5 separate regions of the Homo sapiens genome follow, and regions 1, 3, 4 and 5 are each linked to region 2. Evidence: fine-mapped expression QTL. A gene starts in region 2. Each other region holds a variant in brackets. All regions are shown on one strand. Distances are from middle to middle.

Region 1 (4,119 bases), 70 kb before region 2:
TGTATTTCTTTTTCTTTCTTTTCTTTTCTTTCTTTTTTTTTTTTTTTTTTTTTTGAGACAGAGCAAGGCTGGAATGAAACGGCATGATCTCAGCTCACTGCAGCCTCCACCTCCTGGATTGTAAAGATTCTCTTGCCTCAGCCCCCCAAGTAGCTGGGACTACAGGCGCATGCCACCACACCTGGCTATTTTTTTGTATTTTTTTAATAGAGACGGGGTTTCATCAGCTGGCCAGGCTGGTCTTGAACTCCTGATCACAGGTGATCCGCTCGCCTCAGCCCCCCAAAGTGCTGGAATTACAGGTGTGACAGGGAGTCTATTTCCTAGGGCTGCCCTAACACAGAGCTGCACCCTGGGTGGCTTGGAAACAGTAGAAATGAGCCGTCTCTCAGCCCTGGAGGTGCAGAGTTGGAAATCCAGGTGTCAGCAGGGCCACGCCTCCTTAGAAAGCTGTAGGACAAGCGCCCTTCCTTGCCTCTTCCAGCTCCTGGCAGCCCAGACCTTTCTTGGCTGGTGGCATCATCACCCCAGTCTTCATAGGGCCATCTTCCCACTGTGACTCTTTCCAAAGCCTCCACTTTTCTGTGTCCAAACTTCCCCCTTTTTATAAGGACTTTAGTAACATTGGATTAAGGCCCACCCTAATAATCACTTGATTACATCTGCAAAGACTCTATTTCCTAATAAATTCATATTCTGGGGTACAGGGAGTCAAGACATAGCATGTCTGTCTGGGGGGACACGAGTCGGTCCGCCACAGGGAGCTTCCAGATCCTCACCACGGGCTGGCAAGTCCCTCCCCAGCCTGGCCCGCCACCCTCTCCACCTCATTCAGGGACTCTTCCATTCACCCTGCACACTCCAGACGCTTCAACTCTTTGGAGTCCCTCAACTTCTTATTTTATCAACACCAGCTTTTGCGGACTGAGCTTCCCTAAATCCAAAAATCCAAAATCCGAAATCCAAAAATGCTCCCCAATCCAAATCTTGTGTGCTCAATGGAGCTTTTCAGATTTTCATATGTTCCACAGGTAAGTGTAACACAAAGATCTCGAAATCCAAAATCTGGAACACTTCTGGTCCCAAGCATTTCAGATAAGGGCCACTCAGCCTGTCTAAGCAGCAGGGTGACAAGACCCTGTCCAGGAGCTGAGGAAAGATCCCCCAAAGGAGAGCCGTGGGAAGTGAGGAGGGGGTTCCAGATATTTCCCTAAATGTCCTCCATGGAGGCTAAATCTGTTCTTGGCCTCTTCGGAATTAGCGTTCTTTCCACCAGTGAGGGCGACTTATCATCATGCCAGCCTGTCCTGCCCACAGATCCCCTTGTCACCTGCTCCACAGACCAGCACACCCCATGGCCTGCTCTTTCCTCCCAGCCCTCTGACACAGTTTCCTGATTTCAAGAAATGGAAATTATGTTGGTTCGTTCAACAAATATCTGTTAGGCACAGTGCTGGCGTTGGAGTGCACATAATTTATGTTAAGACAGATCAGTAAAAACAGTACAGATCGTGTGTGTGTGTGTGTGTGTGTGTGTGTGTGTGTGTGTGTGAGAATTAACTCCAATCCAGTCTCTAGGAAGGGGCAGAGGCTCCGTGTTTTAGTTAAATCTGTACCACAGGCTTCCTTCATTGGTATTGGGGTGTTAGCAATTCTCTTTCCCTTGTGAAACTGGTGGTGGTGGCCAAGCGTGCTGGCTCACGCTTGTAATCCCAGCACTTTGGGAGGCCGAGGTGGGCGGATCACCTGAGGTCTAGAGTTCGAGACCAGCCTGGCTAATGGTGAAACCCCGTTTCACAAAAAATTAGCCAGGCGTGATGGTACGCGCCTGTAATCCCAGGTAGTCAGGAGGCTGGGGGAGGAGAATCACTTGAACCCGAGAGGTGGAGGTTGCAGTGAGCTGAGATCATGCCATTGCATTCCAGTTGGGCAACAACAGCGAAACTCCGTCT[C/CAA]AAAAAAAAAAAAAAAGAAAGAAAGAAAGAAAAAAGAAAGAAAGAAAAAGAAAGAAAGGAAGAAATTGGTGGTGTTGGAGACACTTGGTGGCCTAGAAGCAAGTCCTCTGCTCTTGCTTGAACGGGATGTGGAAGTTGTAAGCCCCTAGACTCTCACCTTTGGGAGAAAGACGTAGGTCTAGAATCCTGACTGCATCTGGGTATACCTCTCCTCCCTGCCCCAGAGCCACTCAGCAGAGCATGTGTTGCGGGATTCATTTAGAAGGTAACTTGATCCTGCTGTCAGAATATTCTCACTTGTGTCTCACAGAGAATCTTTCCAGAAGGGCAGAGAGCAGAGGGGCTTCCCCAAGCCCAGAGGTAAAAGGCGTGGATTTGTGTTGTGCCTGCTGCGACCTGTACATTTGTCAGCAATCGGCTAGAGACTAGCTTTCATCATACACACCACCTGGCAGGGAGGCTGAGTGGGGAAGGCGAAATTCCCCGCCATTGTCGGAGGCTGGCGATATCTTCCAGACTATGGACAAGTTGGCTTAGGTCTGTTCTTAACCGCCCAGCAAGAGGTGAACAACAAAGAAAAGGTTCCTGATCTCACAGCTTAGAGACGAAGGACAGACAGCTGGAGGAATTTGCTCAAAAGAAATTGCTTACGTTTCGCCAAAGCTCTAGGTTTTTGCTTGGAGACCTCACTGGTCCGAGGCTGGCCAAGCCGGGGACTGCGTGGCGTTCAGCACTCCTGCGCCTCCACAGCCTGGGTGTGGGCAAGGACAGGAGGCCGCTGTGGCACTGCCCCTTCCACCCCACGCCCAGGAGCTCAGGGAGGAACCTGCCCTGGCTTTTCCAAGACAGAAGAGGAGATTCCACCATCAATGCACCAGAGGAAAGGGCCATGAACGTGGGGAGCCCGGGAGGCCCCGGCCATGCTTTGCCTGAAGGGTAGGGCCGAGGGCGAGGGGTTCCCTTCGTCACGGTGTGCTGAGAACAGATCGTCCCAGTGTTTTTGTTTGTTTGGTTTGGTTTGGTTTTTTGAGACAGGGTCTCACTCTGTTGCCCAGGCTGGAGTGCAGAGGTGCAATCACAGCTCACTGCAGCCCAGACCTCCTGGACTCAAGTGATCCTCCAGCCTCAGCCTCCTGAGTAGCTGGGACCACAGGCACGGGTCACCATGCCCAGTTAAGTTTTTTGTTTTTTTTTTTTAAGAGATAGGGTCTCACTATGTTGCCCAGGCTGGTCTTGAACTTCTGGGCTCAAGCAATCCTCCTGCCCTGGCCTCCCAAAGTGCTGGGATTACAGGCGTGAGCCACTGCATCTGGCCACCTTCCACTATTTGCTTCCATGCTCATTCAGAATTCCCCATGGTAAAAATCCTGTGAGGAATTATATCATAAAATTTAAAAATATATTATTTAGTGATATTTATAGATTTATTCTATAATACATTATTATATTCTAAGTAAGAAAATACGATGTTATAATAAACATATTCTATATTATGTAATAAATACATTGTATATAATAATCTATATATTATACGATAAATATATAGATAAAAATAAGATAAAAATCAATAAACCACATATAAATAGATCTGGCTGGGCCCCTCTCATCTTTCCTATCTCAGTCATTTTTCTGGGCCCCAGACACCTTCTTCGGGTCTGTAAAAGCCCCTCCAGCATTCGTGCAATCGAGGAAACTCGGAGGAGACTTTTGGTCTTTAGCCCCCTGGGGTTCAGGGAAACTCATGGACAAGCCCAAGTCTTGTGGCTCCTCTGCTCCCGAGTCCTGTCCCCCAGGCTCAAGTCACCCACAAAGCCTTCCCAGAGGCTGCCAAGGCCACGCGTAGCACACAGGGTCTCTGTTACCTTCCCGAGGGTAGGAGCAGATTCCTGCCATCCCCACAGTCCTGCTGGTGTCCTTCTGGCGCCTCTCCCACACCCTCCCTCTCCAGACCTGAGGGGCACTCTCCACCTCCAAGCCTTGACAGGTTAGAATCTCAACACCCAAGGCCAAACATCACTAAAACAGTGACAATGGGGACAGTCACCATGGCCTGCTCTGTGGCTGCAGGTGGTGACTGTGACAAACTGGAACAGACCCATCCCTGCTAAAAGCATTTGAATTTACTTCATAAAAATCACAGCAATATCTAAATCTTTTTGTTTGTTTC
Region 2 (4,119 bases):
CTTGTAGAAACGCAGCACAAAAGGCAGACCGACCCTGCACTTTTAAGTTGACAGGCGTCCACTGAGTCTCCCCTTTCTGCTCATGTGCAGTAATCTCTTTGCCTGTGAGTATCTAAGCATTCTCCCGTGAAATTCATTTACCTGGGAATTTGGATCTTTGCTTCTCTGTGCTGATAAGAAGGCCACAGCCATAAAATACTCTGGCCATTCCAAATAGTCGTCCCGTTTCTTGCAGGAAACTTCACTCATGTTGGGTCTAGAAGAAAAACATGACAAAACAGAAGTTGAGAGAAGCATTTTAGTAAGTCTGTTTTCCAGTTCAACCCAACCACACTGAACCTTTAAATCTCTAAACATGGGCAACTTCAGCTACATTTATCAATCAGAAATCACAGCACATGGGCCCTAAACAGTCTCTGGTCTTAAGTAAAAACTTAAGAAATTTCCTATTTCAGAAGTTTGAATTTGAAACCTATAGCTTCACGTTCCCAAATATTTCATCTATTTACTGCTTTCTCATAGGATTTTTTATGCCAGCCTACAAATTGTTGTGTCCTTTACCTGTCTCCCTTACAAAGCGGAGTCAGCACAGGAGGAGGGTGGAAAAAAGAAATATTTATTGATCATCTATAGATTCCAGACATTGTTAAAGTTTATACACATCATGTCACTCAAGCCTTACTCCTAGCTAAGGTAGACAGTGCCATCCCATCTTACACAGACTCAGAGAACTTAGGTAACTTAACCTAAACCACACAGGATTATCATCCATGCCAGACGGATTCAAAGAAAACATCTGAAGCCTTCCCAACTCTGATATTAACCAGATAATTTTTCCCTTCCCTTTCTCCTCAATAATCCAGATGGGACAGAAGTTATCAACTCCGAGTAATGAATTACATGAGAAGAAACTATGAAAAACGTCAAGTGCTACTCCTAAAGCAAGGTTTTTGGAACGTAGTTTACCAGGGGCAAGCAGAGACTGTCTACGGCAGGGAGAGCCCACGAAGGGGGTCCTAGGACTTCAGGGGAGTGGTCGCTTTCAAAAGGAATGAAACAAGGGCAAGGAAGGAAGACAACACAAAAACGGGGTGGGTACCACGGAGAAATCTTGAGAAAGGCGAGGAATGTGGTCTAAAGGAAGGCAAGCATCTCCCAAAACTTCTGCTTCAGGCTCCACACTTTATTTAGGCATCTGCTACAGTGCAGGGCGGCAGTGCCTAAGACAAGGATGCAGTGGAGAGTGGGTGCTGGGAACCACGGTCACCCACTGATTACGCTGCCCCACATCTGAGAGGCCTGGCAACCCCCCTAACAGGAAAAGACAGGTGCTGAATCAGCCTGGTTTCCCACCTGGCTTTAGGGCCAGCATCCATCATCGCTGTGGGGTGCTGGAGAAGTACCTACTAAATAGGAGGGAGGGGGAGCCATGGGGGGCGAGGGAAGAGCAGGAGAGGGAAGGGTCCTGTTAATCCCCTGGGCGCCTTCTCCTGGTGTGGCTGAACGCCCACTAGAGCCCTGTGAGGACTGAGGCCCAGCTGTAGAAACAGAGAGAACTGGAGCTCGAATACAACGATTCAGGAAGACACATCCGGTCACCGTCCCAGGCACACCCCACGCCGCTCGCAACCCCGTCAGCTCTGATCCAGGGCCTACACCCGGCATTCCCAACCCACACACGGGCGCAGGAAGGGATGTGGTGTTCAGACGCCCAGCACCACCTCCCGGGGCACTCCAAGGGGCCCGGCCTCGCACAGGCCGCGGCGCCCGCCGAGAAATCGACCCTGGAGTGACTGCGGGGACCCCGAGCGCCCCCACCCCGCCCGCATTCTCCGATCTAAAGGCTGAGCGCGGCCGAGGCGCCCCCAGCGTCCGCGGCCCCAGGCCCCCGCCCGGCAGCCAGCGCCCCGCGCCACGCGCTCGGGACGGTGCCACGCGGCGGTGGCTAGGGGCGCGCGGGCCGCGTACCCGCACGGCTGGCCCCCGCCCACCATCCGGTGCCGGCTCCGCGCGCAGGCCGGTGCTCGTCCCCGCCGCCGCCGTGCTCAGGGAAGGAAGTCGGGGGAGGAGGCGGGGCCGCCGCGGGGCCGGAAGGGGGCAGCGGCCCGGGCGCCGCGCGTTCGCAGGACGGCGGCTGGCCCCGGGGGCCCGAAGCCCTGAGGGGAGGGAGGGAGGGACGGCGGGGGCGGGTCGCACGCCGCAAAGGCGCTGCTCCGCGTCGCCGTACGCCTCCCGGTCCCCGTGACGCAGCCCGCGGTCCGGCCGGCGGTGTTCAGAGCCCGAGCACAAACTACTTCCCGGGTGCCAGACCGCCCCGAGGTCGCCCCGCTGCCCGGGTCACGCGTGGCGCTGGGTGGCCGCGAGTTGGGCGCTCCCGGGCCTGACTGCACGACCGTCGGGGGCTGCTTGGTTTGGTGGTGGTGGCGGTGGTGAGGTTTTCCCCACCATCCGTGTTCCATCAACTGCTTAGAGACACGGCTATGGAGATTGTGATTAAAAGACGACCCCAAGAATCTAGTGCCGTGAAACTGGCGGGGCGGGAGGTGGGGAGACCTGGTTTGGGTCTCTGGAGTGAGCCCGCTGTGTCGCAGCGTCCCCGTGGGGACCCTTGGCCGGTGGCTGGGTCACAGTTTCACACACTGGATGGGGCAGGGAACTGGGTCCGGCGGGGGCGCTGTGCCTCGAGGCTCAGTGCCTCGAAGCTAGATTTGCATTTGGCTGCGCCTGACAGGCTTTCAGTTTCTGCTCAAATTGTGCGGAAGGGCCTGAGGTGTTTGCTAAAGCCTGCCGCGCCCTGCTCGACCCGTATCACCGCACAGGCACCCCACCTGCATGTTACCTCCTGGTAATGCTCGCCCACTTATATAGTGCACATTTTGTTGCAGTTGTTTCAAAGATGAGAAAAACAGGGCAATAGGAAAGACCATCAGTGACATTTCTGGAGTCGTATGCCCCAAGCAACTTAATCTGGTTTTCATGAACTTCGTTACCCTGTGCAGACGTCTAGCCCCTTACAGTGGTTCTAGCACAGAGAATGACAGAAGAACCCCTTTCTGTTTCATTCATGGGACTTGAGGGGACTGTCAGCACTCCATAAATAACAGCTACTGTAATAATCGCCAGTTCTGATCTGCACATCCCAGATTTGAACTGCTATTCCAAACAAAAGCTTGTTAACTATATTAATTTAGCCTAACGGAGGAAGAATGATGAGAGTAAACAGTTGGTTCTATCTAATTTCTCACTACAGCAGACACATCATTCTTCATCTCATGGTCCAGCTTGTAGATTCAATAATTAAATTATGTACTGCTCTTGGTGGATGCCGGGAAAGCAAAAGGGAGAAATACTTCATCGTTAACTATAGATTTTTTTTTTTTTTTTTTTGCCTTGATAAGACTCAGGCTTGAAAGAGCCACATAGATTAAGATGATGATTTTTAATTTCAAGTTGACTTTACATGGCTGTCTTGTTGCCGCTAAAATGTGTCATATATCCCGAGCCCCTGGTTTCCCTCCTCCTCCCAAATCCACCGCTTGGTCTTTGTCACACTCATCTACAGTCTTTGGGTCTTCATAGATCCATTTCTCTTCTTACCAACCTACAACCCATACATCACCAATTGCTGCTGCTCCTTCAACCACAACATCATTAAGCTTTCTTCCTTCCTCTGCTCGGTAAAGACTGTCATACATAATTTAGTTACTTCTCATCACTCTCCATTTTGGTCAACTCACACACTCCCCTCTGCCATAAATTCAAGCTCCTGCTTGCTGAAAACACATTACCCTGAATGTTCCCGCATTTCACTGAAAGTCCCTCATCTTAAAGATGACATCATTCATAATACAGGAAACCCTCCTGGTTCAGAGTTTCACAACTTGAGGTTTCAAATATTGTACACCAATAGTGAAGCCACGCGGCCAAAGGGGGGAGAAATATATTCCTTGGTATGTCTTTCTCATTAACACCTTGTAACTCCAAGTGTGACTGTAGGTGTTAAATCTCTCTTGCTAATACCTTGTATTTGGGCTTATAATTGAGGATCTTTCTCCACCTACTACAGATACAGAGGTTAGGTATGTGTTCAGCCCTATCTAGATTGGCCTTCCTTGAGGG
Region 3 (4,119 bases), 27 kb before region 2:
CAACAACCTAAATATTTTTAATCCTCAGGTAGATACAGACATTGGAAGATCAAAAATTACACCAGGGCCACAGGAACTTCAGCTCACCGGGCTTGCAAGCCTACATTTGTATTCATGAGCTCAGCTTGTATGCTTGTTCTCTTATTTTGCTTCATTTTTAATTTAGGAAAAGATGGCTAATATATTAGATCACTTTCACTGCTGGGTCTTGTCAGGCTTCAGAAGTCTTTAAGGACAGACTGCTAAAAGAGTAAAAGGGAAGAAAGCAGAAAATGTGTCAGGGAAATGGAGTTCCTATCATTTCACTCACAAATTCTGCCTTTTAAATGTAGTCCTTCTACCAACGGTTCAGTGAAAGATGGTTTCCTTATTGTCATTTATTAGCCATGACAGGCAGCAACATTGGCTCAGATACAGTCTCCCTTCACCACAATTATCTAGTAATGCCTGCGAGGCAAAAGACTGCACAAAACTCCCTCCTTCTGGAAAGCTTCTCCCCAAGGCACCAGTTCAAAGCAAACCTCTATTAACTGGAACATGAACATCTGCAGAATTCTCTGGATAGGACAATTCTACTATTCTTATAGTGATCCTAGAAACGAAGACATAATCACTCACACTCCAGTCACCAGGAGACCAGGGTCGGTTCATAGGTGGAAGCATCACAACCCCCCAGCGACAGCATCTGCCCCCAAATAAACACCCACAACTGACCTCAGTACCAGGACTCCCCTTTTAGCAAGGACCCTTCCTGTCAACCTCCCCTCAAAGACAGAAAAAGAAAAAAGTCAATTTTTTTTCACTGAAACTGAATGTAACAACCAGACAAGATATAAGATAGTATCAAAATTACATAAATTAGATGCCCTACTGGCTTATCAGCCCCTAGACATATTTATCAATGTGATGTGATGAAAATGACACACTCCATCCTAACAGGACTCACAACTCTTGTGACTTGCGGCAATAGAGAAATCTCTAATTTTCTACCTTTAAGTCTACTGATTCTTTTTTCCACATACCTTTTGTTTTATGTATTTTGGAGCAAACACAGGGCGAGGAGTTTGGAGGAGAAAAGAGAAGGAAATTTAGGAGAGAAGAGAAGAGAGACTTGGAAAGAGGATAAGGTGAGAAGTCAGCAAAGGGCAGAACTCAGGACTGAAGCCTTCCGGGAGGACAGAGGCCTGGGCCCTACCAGATAGATGGCCACACCTGGGACCAGGGGCAGGGTACACAGGAGAGAGCGTAGGGCTAGCGGCTGCCTTCGCATTTTACATAAATCTGATCCATAAAGCAGCCCCAGACATCAACCCTGGGGAACGCACACAGCTTGGGCATCTCAAATTATTCTTTGAGCATTAAAACATATGTAATATGCTTCGGAGACAATACAGAAAGGACAGGAGCAGAAAATTAAGCATATAATTATAATAACATAAAAATGTACATGCTTTGGTAGGGTAGATTTTAATAAGATTTTAATAATATTGGTAAGGAGCCAAATTACAGAATACCCTAGAATGTGGAATACAAAATCTCAGAGACAAAATAAAAACTCATGAAAATATAAGAGCACTTTAAAAAGGTAATAATCTTTAGGATAAAGAAAGCCTTTTCTCAACACAGGTACTGAGCATGTTTAATAAAAATTAAATGAGATTAAAGAGAAGGGGCACAGCCACACGCTCCCCGCCCCGCGGTGATTAGGAAGGTGATGCTTGTGTAGGTGAAAGCATGGAGCCAGGGCACAGAAGAGCTCCGAACACCAACAGTGCTGCAGTAAGCTGTCTCCACGTGGGTGGAATTTCTCACAATCCACTCACGGGATAGGAATTAATTTTCTCTCCAGTTGCAGAGGGGCCTTGTACATGAACTGCGTTGGCATGCGGAGGAGGGGCAACACATCCATGTTGGGGACCCCTCCCATCCACAGCCCCAGCTGCCACCACGGCAGGGCATGGGCTTTGGGGGCAACAAGGAGAGACAGGCTGTCTCCTCTAGGAACAACTCATTATTCAGCTAAACGAAATGGAAGAGCTCCATGTGACCAACAAACCCAAATTGAGCCAAAACAACAGGCGTCCCCACCCCCCAGAGGGATAATGTGCCACCACCCTGTGTGCAGTGGGAGAGCAGGAATGGAGGAAATATTCCTGGTTCAGTTACACTCCTCGTCTGTCAGGACAGATGTGCCACCCTATCTCGGATTCCGGGAGGGTGGCTGGGGGTTTCCCTCAACTCTGCAGCAAACACTTCAATGCTACTGTCATTTGAGGCCTAATTTTCTTCCAAGGGCACTATATGCCATGCTTCACTTGGGCCAGATGTTCAGATCAGTGTGTCTGCTCGTCCCCATTAAGAACACAACCACAATTATTTATTTGTCCTTCCAGCACATGTAGCAGTGAAGAGAGGCTGCCGGATCGCAGCAGATGACAGACAGCTGATGCTCCTCTGAAGAGCCACCAGCATCCCAGCCAGCCAGGACACAAGAAGGGGAGGCACTCTCGTTCTAGCCCTGTGCACCAGGCCACCACAGGCTCCCCTATTTTAAA[C/T]CCTAAAGCAATAGTTCAAACACATGTAGATTCCATGTGACAAGAGAGACAGTAAGGAAGATTTGAGGCTTTATATTCTTTAGATGCCTACTTTTGCCATACTGGCTAGTAAGAAGTTATGTGTAACTTCAAGATGAAAGGCATTAGCAACCTCTTAGAAGACGATAATCCCAATCTTCTGGAGATTGAATGAGATGTAACTCACTGAAGCTTTTGACTCGGTCTGCTGTTAATTGAATCAAAGTCAATGACAATCTTGCTGCACTTCGGTATGAATTTCCTAAAAATAAAAACAAAATACAATTATTATCTGGTGAGTAGTGAAAGCAATTTGTTTACTTTGGCTTAACTCATATTTTCTGTGCAGAGAAAAATATGTCCTGGGATTCACTTGCTATTTTCTCTCTATAGGAGCCAATTATAGTGCACCATACCAAGAGAAACACAGAGCAGAAAAGACTAAGACAAAAAAAGATGCATGGGGTGGTGTGGTTTGTATGTTTTCAGCTCTCTGAGTTCACGAATTATTGGGGAGTCAAAGGATTTCTAACAAGTCAGCTGCACAACATGATATCCGATTACTAGTTTTCCCATCAGATTTATCTTATTTTCTAGAAAAATTTCTGCAGCCAACTTGGAGTCTCTCTAATGCAAAAAAATAGTAAATTTTCTTTTGCCGCTTATATATAGCAAAAAACGACTACCTTTAGTGAGGAGTAATTTTTCAAATTACATTCTAAAAATGCAAACATAAACCAACTTTTTTTTTTTTTTTTTTGCTCATTAACTTTTCACTTGTTCCTCATTTCTTCTACAACAATTAAAAAGAAGACATTTGGGAACAAAACAAATTCTTTTAAGAATCACTGAACAAGAGAGTATACAAATAATTTGAATTTAAAGTCTCAGAAGGCACCACGGTTGAGTTCATGAGATACACTGAGCTGTATCCCTAATGACCAGCACAAGGGGCCAGGGCACGTCACCTATGACCATGGTCCCACTGCTGCTGAACGCCAATACCATGAAGCGCTGGAAAACTTTACAGTCCCAAAGGAATTTTCTGCCATGAATCAAAGGTAGTTGAACTTACTTGCAAGTAAAATATAGCTCACAACCATTTCTTAGCAAAGATAATCATAAAAATCTGTAAGACTTCAAATCTCAATGCAAAATGTTGCTGTAAAAAGAATCCCCAGGTGGCTCACACCTGTAATCCCAGCACTTTGGGAGGCTGAGGCAGGCAGCTCATGAGGTCATCCTGGCCAACATGGTGAAACCCCGTCTCTACTGAAAGTACAAAAAAATTAGCTGGGTGTGGCAGGGGAGGCTGAGGCAGGAGAACCGCTTGAACCTGAGAAGCGGAGGTTGCAGTGAGCCAGGATCGCACCACTGCACTCTAGCCTGGTGACAGAGCGAGACTCCGTCTCAAAAAAAAAAGAGAGAATCCCCAATGTTTCAATCTGGCAGGCTACTTTCATCCTAAATTTTCTATGCCAAAGTTGTTACATTTGCAAAATTCACCAAGGTTTGGCATTCCTATTATAAAACTTGTGAATGTTTA
Region 4 (4,119 bases), 41 kb before region 2:
TAAATTCACACAGGGACAGTTCCTCCTAGGCCACGCACAAGGGGTCGCATCCTGCCGTCCTCCCTCAGAAATTAATTGAGCTCTCTTGCCGCCGTAAACGAACAGTGCATCTGGAAAGATCGTATCTGTCAAGATTGCAGATTGGTTTCCCTCAGACTTTGTAAAAGTCACAGCTTACAATACGTTCATTATACCGATGAGAATGGCTGTCCTCCCAACTGGAAAGAAATAGGTGTTTTGTTCTGTTGGACCAAGATTTACAGAAAGCAATTTTCCTCCATGCAGGAGATATGACAAACCTGCTGGAAAAAAATGTCATTTCACAACTTCTTTCATTTCATCACCTTTTTTTACTGCTAGATGTAGATTCTCTCCCCTGTGCGAACGGGCTGTAGTGACATTTAATGGCTAAGTGAGGGAGTCACCAATGAGTGGAGGCACCTTTCTGAGGGGCTAAGGTAAGAGGGTTTCCATGCCTCTCCCTCTCCCCCTATGTCCGGGGCTGTCTGGAAGCGTCCCAGCATCTGCCGGAGTGAGGGAGGGACGCGGTGAGTCCCTTGAGCCCCTCAGCCAACTTGAACTTAGGAACTCATGTGAATCTTGTGTCTCTCTCTTGTAAGCAGCTGAAGTTGCCTCAGTTTTCCTGTTGTTTGCTGAGCCCAAGAACCCCAGCGTGCCCACTCTGTCCTTGGCTGACAGCAGCACGCTGTCTCAGGAGGACGGCTGAAGGGCAGAGTTTGGGCTTAGATGTTTTTTTTCCATTTCCTCATGTCATAACCTAATGCTGTTCTAGCAGAGCTTCTGCATATTAAATTGCCTTTTAGCCACTGGGAAGGGGGTGGCGTGATCTATGGAGAAAAGGACCCTCATGTAAATGTATGATGGTGACACAACCCCACAGAGGAGAAAGGGCAAGACTAACCCGGAGACCAGGGGTCAGCAAACCCCGGGAAACGTCACTCTTTACAGCCACTTCTCTCTCCTTGAGTCAAGAGCCACTGTTCCGAGCTTTCCGTCACAGCAGCTCATGGCAGCCCTATCACCGCCTGTTCTCTGGGCTGGGGCTGGTGAGAAGGCCGAGGAAGTCTGAGGCAGGGTGTGTGGGAGGGCTTTTGGTTCCAAGAGCTTCTCTGAGCTCTGTGTACCAGCGAGAAAGCAGGCAGCGAAGGCAAGATCAAACCTTGCTCCTGCCAAGCGGGAGAGGCTGGCTTCGGGTGGTAATTTGTGCTGCAGGTGAGGCTCCCTACCTGGGCGGCCACTTAGCTGCACCAGGCAGGGAGGGCAGGGCCACCAGAAGGCCTGGTGGGCATTGTTTCCATGGGCTGGAAAGATTTTTGCAAATCTTTCTGCAAATGATGATCTCTATCCACATAAAGTGGCATAATAGCCTCTTTGCTTTACCGAGTGCTGCTGGCTGTTCAAGTGCTTATTTCTTGATTCTTGGCCCATTTGCTTTCCATTAGCAGTAATCCCAAGCCTGCAAAACTCCAATTACTAAGTGATAATAGAAATGCAGCTCTGCCTCGGAGTCTCTGGAGCTCAGGGTCCAGAGTGGGCCAGGGTTCCACGCACAGCCACATTGCAATCATATTTATGACATGTGAGCAAGACATCTGGCCGGTCCCTGGGTTAAAGACCCAGGGGAGCCGAGTGGGCATTCTCAGGGGGTGTCTGCACCGCAGATCCCAGGGAGCTGGTGGAAACAGGACAGGTGTTCCCAAGACAGTCCAGGATGCTCAGACAGCGTAGGAGGAATGGAGGCTACAATGGACGGAGCTGAAGGAATGTGTGCTGCTCCTTTGAATTCTGGGGTTGGAGGAAAGGTGTGCTAGGGACTGAGCTGTGTCCCTCTCCCAAATTCATATGTCAAAACTTTAACCCTCCATGTGAGGGTTTTTGGAGGTAGGGCCTTTATAGGTAATTAGGTTTGGATGCAGTCATGAGGGTATCGCCCTTACGATGGGATTAGTAGCTTTCTAAGAGACCAGAGCCGTTGCTCCCGGCCCCACTCCCTGCCAGGTGAGCCCACAGTGAGAAGGCGGCCGTCCACAAGCCAGGAAGAGAGCCCTCACCAGAACCCGGCCATGCCAGCACCTGATCTCAGACTTCCCAGCCTCCAGAACAGTGAGAAGTAAAGGCTTATTGTTTAAGCCGCCCAGTCCCTTGTATTTAGTTATGGGCAGCTGAGCAGACTGCAACAGGATGACAGGAGAGAGAATGATTGTAGATTCAGAGTGAGGTGGGGCTCAAAGTCAGAACTTCAGAACTGAGCCCAAAATGATCAGAAAATTCACCCCCTAGGTGGCT[G/C]CTGGTGAAAATTCACTACTCTAGGGGCCAGGGCAGCTGTTTTGTATGTGTGTGTGTGTGGTAAGAAAACAAAAAAACAAAACAAAACAAAAACAACCACACACATAATAAGGCCAGGCACGGTGGCTCACGTCTGCAATCCCAGCACTTTGAGAGGCCGAGGCGGGTGGATCACTTGAGGTCAGGATTTCCAGACCAGCCTGGCCAACATGATGAAACCCTGTCTCTACTAAAAATACAATTAGCCGGACATGTGGCGTGAGGCTGTAGTCCCAGCTACTCAGGAGGCTGAGGCAGGAGAATGGCTTGAACCTAGGAGGTGGAGGCTGCAGTGAGCTGAGATCGTGCCATTGCACTCCAGCCTGGGCGACAGAGAGAGATTCCATCTCAAAAAAACAAAACAAAACAAAACAAAAAAAACACATAACATAAAATTTACCATCTTAACCATTTCTAAGTGTACAGTTAAGCAGTGTTAACTATATGCACACTGCTTTGCAATCAACCTCCGGAACTTTTCATCTCACAAAACTGAAAGTCTGTATCTGTTAAACAACTCCCATTTTCCCCTCTCCCAGGCCCCGCACCCACCATCCTACTTTCTGTCTCTATGTATTTGACACTCACATCATCTCGCGCAGGTGGGATCATCTGGTATTTGTCCTTTTGTGACTGTCTCCTTTCACTTAGCTCACTGTCCAAAGTTCGTCCATGCAGTAGCATGTGTTGGATGGACTTTCCTTCCTTTTCAAGGCTGAGTAAGATTCCACTGTGTGTTTACATTTTCTTTATCCATTCATCCACCGAGGAACACCTGGGCGACGTCCCCCTCCTGGCTGCTGTGAATAATGCTGCTCTGAGCATGAGTGTGGAGCGTCTGTTTACAAAGGAGATGGTCAGACAGTACAACAGCACTCAGGTCAGTCCAGCTGCCCCCTCATCCCACCAGCTCCTTCCCAAAAGATTGACCACTGGACTTTTTCTCATAGGAAGCACTGCCCTCCGCACCAAGCTCCCTTCACATCCTGATCAGCGCTGCTCTCGGCTGCTGCTTCTTGCTTCAAGCCCCCAGGAATATCTCCCTTTTTTTTAATTCCATTTCTCTCTCAACCTTAAAACTATCCACCACCCTTAGTCTGTTCCATTATCAAGCCCTTCTGCTGACTTTCACCAAGCACTGTCATTTCTTCTTCCACATTTTCTTTCAAATTCTCCAAGATCCTCTTTTAAATATACTAGCAAGGCAGACTCGCCTGACTTTTCCCTAGTTCACACCTAGGGACAAACAGATCCAAAAAAGTCAATAGAATTTGTAGGGGATCCTGATAAGGACTTGGCTGATTTTTGTTGCCTGGTTTAGACCGCTGCAGTTTTGTGCCCCTCAGAAATCTCATAATTTATGACTGCTGCCAGCGGGCAAAAATGTGGAGCGTTTGTCCTCAAACAGAGTCTGTTGTAAAAGTGTTCTTTCTAACGGTAAAGAGCAGCAAAGAAAACAGGCTGCTGTGTTCTTCCTCTCTGATGCCTCTGACCTCGTTGAGTAGCTTCTCACTCAAATTGTTCATTGTGGCACCAGCCACATTCTTTTTGAGATTTTAAAAAATTAACAGACTCCTTTTTTAGAGCAGTTTTAGTTTTATGGAAAAATTGACTGGAAAGTATACAGAGTTCCTATATTAATGCCTTGGTCTCCTCCCCACCATCGTTTCTCCTATTATTGACACCTTGATTCTGACTCTGGGGCTGCCCTCTCTCAGGAACTGCAGCTGACCTGGGTGCCCAGTGCCTGTCCCACGCTAGAGAGGATCCGAG
Region 5 (4,119 bases), 32 kb before region 2:
AGAAAGAAAGAAAGAGAGAGAGAGAGAGACAGAGAAAAAAAAAGAAAGAAAAAGAGAAAGAAAGAAAGAAAGACAGACAGACAGACAGACAGACAGACAGAAAGAAAGAAAGAAAGAAAGAAAGAAAGAAAGAAAGAAAGAAAGAGAACGAACGAACAAAGTCAACAGCGAACAGACACTTCCAAAGTGCCTTTCGGGCTATAACCGTACTGTCATCTAAGGCAGCTGGCACCTCAAAGCATGAGCCTACAGATTCTTTCATGGGGTCTACCCTGTCAAAATGATCTTCATTATAATACTAAGATGTTTTTTGCCTTTTTTCACTGTGTGGACATTTGCACTATGCAACCAAAGCAATGGTGAGGAAAAGTGAGGGTGAAGGAATCAGAGGCAGTGGCGCCCACGTGCACTCTTCACCACCACATGCTCAGGGAAGAAAACAAAGGCAGAGAAGTAAAAAGACCATTTCCCTTAAGATGTCCTCAGCGATGCCGGCAGGAAAAAGTATTACTTGTAGGGAACCTCCACGTTGACGAGTCATCTTTTTCACACTTCCTGGGTGAGATGGGAAGCGTGCATGAAGCACCTCTGCACGTTGTCCTTAGGAAGAGTGCCACGCTCTTCCTGTTTGAGTTGCAAGCTCAACTAGCCCCTTTGTTCATGGGATGCCATTTTTACTTCAAAGAAAGAGTGACTGTGGATACTCAGATTTGGGGACATGACAGACATTTTCTTGAAAATGAACAAAGTAAGCTATTTATCACTTTGAGGGAAATGAAGTGATCAAATGATAAAATTCACGCTTTCAAGATAAAATCCGAATTTTGGAAAACTTGTTATCGGTCACTGTGAACTTGACAGCTTCCCAGTACTTAAAGAGAGAGATTTTTCTCAAATTAGTGGTGATGTTTACAAAAGTGATTTGGGGACGTTGTATAATGAAATGTGTCAAGTCTTGAAAGATCTGCATCATTCAATGAACTGGTAGTTTCCAAATGACCAATAGTATCATGCATGGGTTAAACATCAATTCAAAATACAAGATAGACCAAATGATTTTAATGTAAGATAATAGGAAATACTCATTAATATGATTTCAGATTTCACATTGCAACTAGCTTTTAAGAAACTTTCATATATCAAATTGTGGTGTGGTATCAAAGACTATCCACAATTTTCTGAAAATGCTATTAAAATATGCCTCCCCTTTCCAACTATATATCTGGGTTTGGCTGGATTTTCTCCACATATTTCAGCCAAAACAACTTACTGCAACAGATAGAAAACACACAGAAATGAGAATCCAGCTGTTTTCTATTAAGCCAGACACGAAAAACAGTTGCAAAAATGTAACACGATGCTGCTTTTTTCATTAAACATTTTTTGTTGTTCTGGAAAATAGTTATTCTTTCGTAAAAGTATGTTATTTATGTTAACATGTAAAGGGTTTACTATTGGTATTTTAAATGAATTAAAATATTTTTTAAATTTCTCAGTTTTAATTTCTAATGTAAATATTGATAAATATAACCCATGAAACTAAAGTTTCTTTGGGGTCCTCAGTAATTTTTAAGAGTGTAAAGGGGCCCTGAGACCAAAATGTTTAAAAAAAATGTTAGCATGAGGCAGCAGGAGAAAGAGGCTCCAGAAGAAGCAGTAGCACAGGGAATGTTCCAGATTAAAGGGGCTAACGAGACATGACAACAAAATGCAATACCAAACTCTAGACTGTATCCCATATGGAAAACACCAGAAAGAAACGTATTGGGTCAACTGACAAAATTGGGATAGGAATAATAAATTAAAATATTCTAACCATGTTAAACATATTATTGTCAATAACTATACTTAACTATACTGGATATGAAAATGTCCCTATTCTTAGGAAACAAACGCTGAGTATTTAGGGGCCAGAGACCATGTTGTAACTGACCCTCAAGTGGTATGCGTGCCTATGTATATATATCACTCTTTCATAGCTGTGACCAGCTAAGAAACTAAGATTTCCTGCACAGGAGTTTGAAAGTCAACGTGAAGGTCACAAAATTCCTATGAAGCAAGTATCATTTTTCAACTCAACAACAACTTTAACACTGAGGATGCGAAGAACCACTGAGTAGAAATTACACAATTAAACTGTTATACAATTTTCCAAGCAAGGGGTATGTTGTGGCCAACAGCATGAATGACAGCAGTTACTAGCCTCTTTCTCCCCTGCAGCCTCCTCTATCGAATGTGGAATGCCAAGGACCCTGTCAGCCTCCCTTGCAGCTAGGGGTGGCCATGTGACTGGCTATGGCCCAAGGGATGGAAGAGAATACTTGCTGGGGCTTCTGAGAAAGTTTCTGCTTTTCTGATCAAAGG[G/T]ATAGCCAAGAGCAGAGAAGCCTCATCCCCACTCTGCCACCCATCTCCTTCTTGCATTTAGTGTGAATGGGATGCCTGAAGTTTTTGACAAAACAAGCCTGAAGATATAAAGCAAAAGACAGAAATAAAGAAAAAAACCTAGATCTTTGCAGACATCATGGACCAGCTGACCCAACTCCAGCAAATGCTTACCACCGTACTTGTTATGTGAGGAAAAATATGCTACTTGTTTAGTCACTGAGAGTCAGGGGCCTGTTACTTACAGCTACATGCATTACTAATGCCTACTTATTCAGAGGCTGGGGAAAGGCAGAATAAATCAAAAGGCTGCACACCATGCCCACCCCTGCAGAGGAAGCAATTCCAGAACAGAATGCCCATTTAAAACCTGGACCAAATGGCATGTTTAAGTTTCTAACAGTTTTCATTAACAAAAGTTAACATACAGAACTCCTACAACAGAAAGCATTCAACAGTGATTTAAGACCTGGAAAGGTCAAGAAATCCACTAATCGGATGGGTTTCAGTGGAAACATCGTCTCTGGGTGTTCTGCCAAGAGTGTCTGTTATTGCCAAATTCCTCATTCAAACCCATATATAAGAATGCTTTAACTGAAACGCAGAAGTCAAAAATAAGACATTTAAACAGTAATCTCCTGTCTCTCTTAAAGATAAATGTGCCCATTAGCCCTGGCTGCTAACAGGAAGATTTCTTTCTCTTACATTCCAGATGACAATTTTTTTCAAGCCATTCACAAAGAAATCAGCATGGAAAAAATAATTTAGGAGGTTGGCTCCTGCTCAGCTACCTCACTGAATTAAAGTGCAATCAAGTTTATAACTTTTAAGTGGAAATATTAAAAATGTGTATGAAGCCCCTCTGCATAGGGTCCCGTGCAGACATGGAGAGAAATGGTAGCCAGGCACCAAGATACACAGGATGCCACATGCGCTCTGTGGAGTTTCCAACCTCGTTAGAGCAGGACAAGATACATATGAAAAGTTAAATGACATGTTTCAGTAACAGTTCTAGACAGTAGAAGAGATATCATAAAACAGTACACGATTCATTGCCAGAAAGACAGTTGCTGACAATAACTGCTGCAGGATTTCAAAGAAGAAAAAATCACTTCAAGCTCAGGAAGGTCTGGGGAGACTTTACAGAGAGGGCGGGATCCAACTCAGTGTTGAAACATGCATGGAAACTGTGGATGGTCAAAGGGAGCACAGGAAGAGGCTCTTAAAAATGCTGGGTTTAGGCCATGCAAAGTGGCTCACGCCTGCAATCCCAGCGCTTTGGGAGGCCAAAGCAGGAGGATCACATGAGCCCAGGAGTTTGAGACCAGCTTGGGCAACACAGTGAGATCCCGTCTCTACAAAAAATAAAAAATAAATAACAATTAGCCAGGGAATTAGTGTGGAGATGCATGTCCATAGTTCCTGCTACTTGGGAGGCTGAGGTGGGTGGATCACTTGAGCCCAGGAGGTTGAGGCTGCAGTGAGATATGATCACGCCACTGCCCTCTAGCCTGAGCGACAGAGTGAGACCCTGTTTCAAAAAAAAGAAGGAAAAAAAATGTTGATTTTTAAAAAAGAAAAATCCTTCAAGGTAGGTGACTGGTGCAGGGAGGAAGGCCGCTGGGTGGCTGAGGCAGACGGGGCCAGGTTGGCGAGGCACACTGCACATTCAGGAAAGGATGGCTGCAGAAGATGGGAGCGGCCCAGGTGTCCATTGGTGCGTGAATGGCTAAACAA

Evidence for each region. PIP is the estimated chance that this variant, and not a neighbour inherited with it, causes the effect.
Region 1: its variant is the best candidate, but not a certain one, in a credible set for the expression of DCTD in whole blood (INTERVAL, PIP 0.76).
Region 3: its variant is the best candidate, but not a certain one, in a credible set for the expression of DCTD in transverse colon (CEDAR, PIP 0.62).
Region 4: its variant is the best candidate, but not a certain one, in a credible set for the expression of DCTD in whole blood (TOPMed, PIP 0.53).
Region 5: its variant is the best candidate, but not a certain one, in a credible set for the expression of DCTD in whole blood (TOPMed, PIP 0.71).

What each region holds. Positions count from the first base shown.
Region 1 is chr4:182,845,427-182,849,545 of GRCh38, forward strand. No RefSeq gene overlaps it. Among named protein-coding and RNA genes, the nearest start is that of DCTD, 70 kb to the right of the region's middle. The variant C/CAA (reference allele first, on the strand shown) is at 1,953.
Region 2 is chr4:182,915,320-182,919,438 of GRCh38, forward strand. It overlaps DCTD (dCMP deaminase), which reads right to left and starts at 2,067. Exons shown (of 6, transcript NM_001921.3): 1 at 1,992-2,067; 2 at 142-256. The coding sequence starts at 249. RefSeq lists a silencer at 1,699-2,408 and an enhancer at 3,982-4,031.
Region 3 is chr4:182,888,643-182,892,761 of GRCh38, forward strand. DCTD (dCMP deaminase) reads right to left here. Exons shown (of 6, transcript NM_001921.3): 6 at 1,449-2,835. The coding sequence ends at 2,757. Among named protein-coding and RNA genes, the nearest start is that of DCTD, 27 kb to the right of the region's middle. The variant C/T (reference allele first, on the strand shown) is at 2,556.
Region 4 is chr4:182,874,577-182,878,695 of GRCh38, forward strand. It overlaps LOC105377576 (a long non-coding RNA gene), which reads right to left. Exons shown (of 3, transcript XR_007058403.1): 1 at 4,079-4,119; 2 at 2,935-3,184; 3 at 1-302. Among named protein-coding and RNA genes, the nearest start is that of DCTD, 41 kb to the right of the region's middle. The variant G/C (reference allele first, on the strand shown) is at 2,308.
Region 5 is chr4:182,882,946-182,887,064 of GRCh38, forward strand. No RefSeq gene overlaps it. Among named protein-coding and RNA genes, the nearest start is that of DCTD, 32 kb to the right of the region's middle. The variant G/T (reference allele first, on the strand shown) is at 2,365.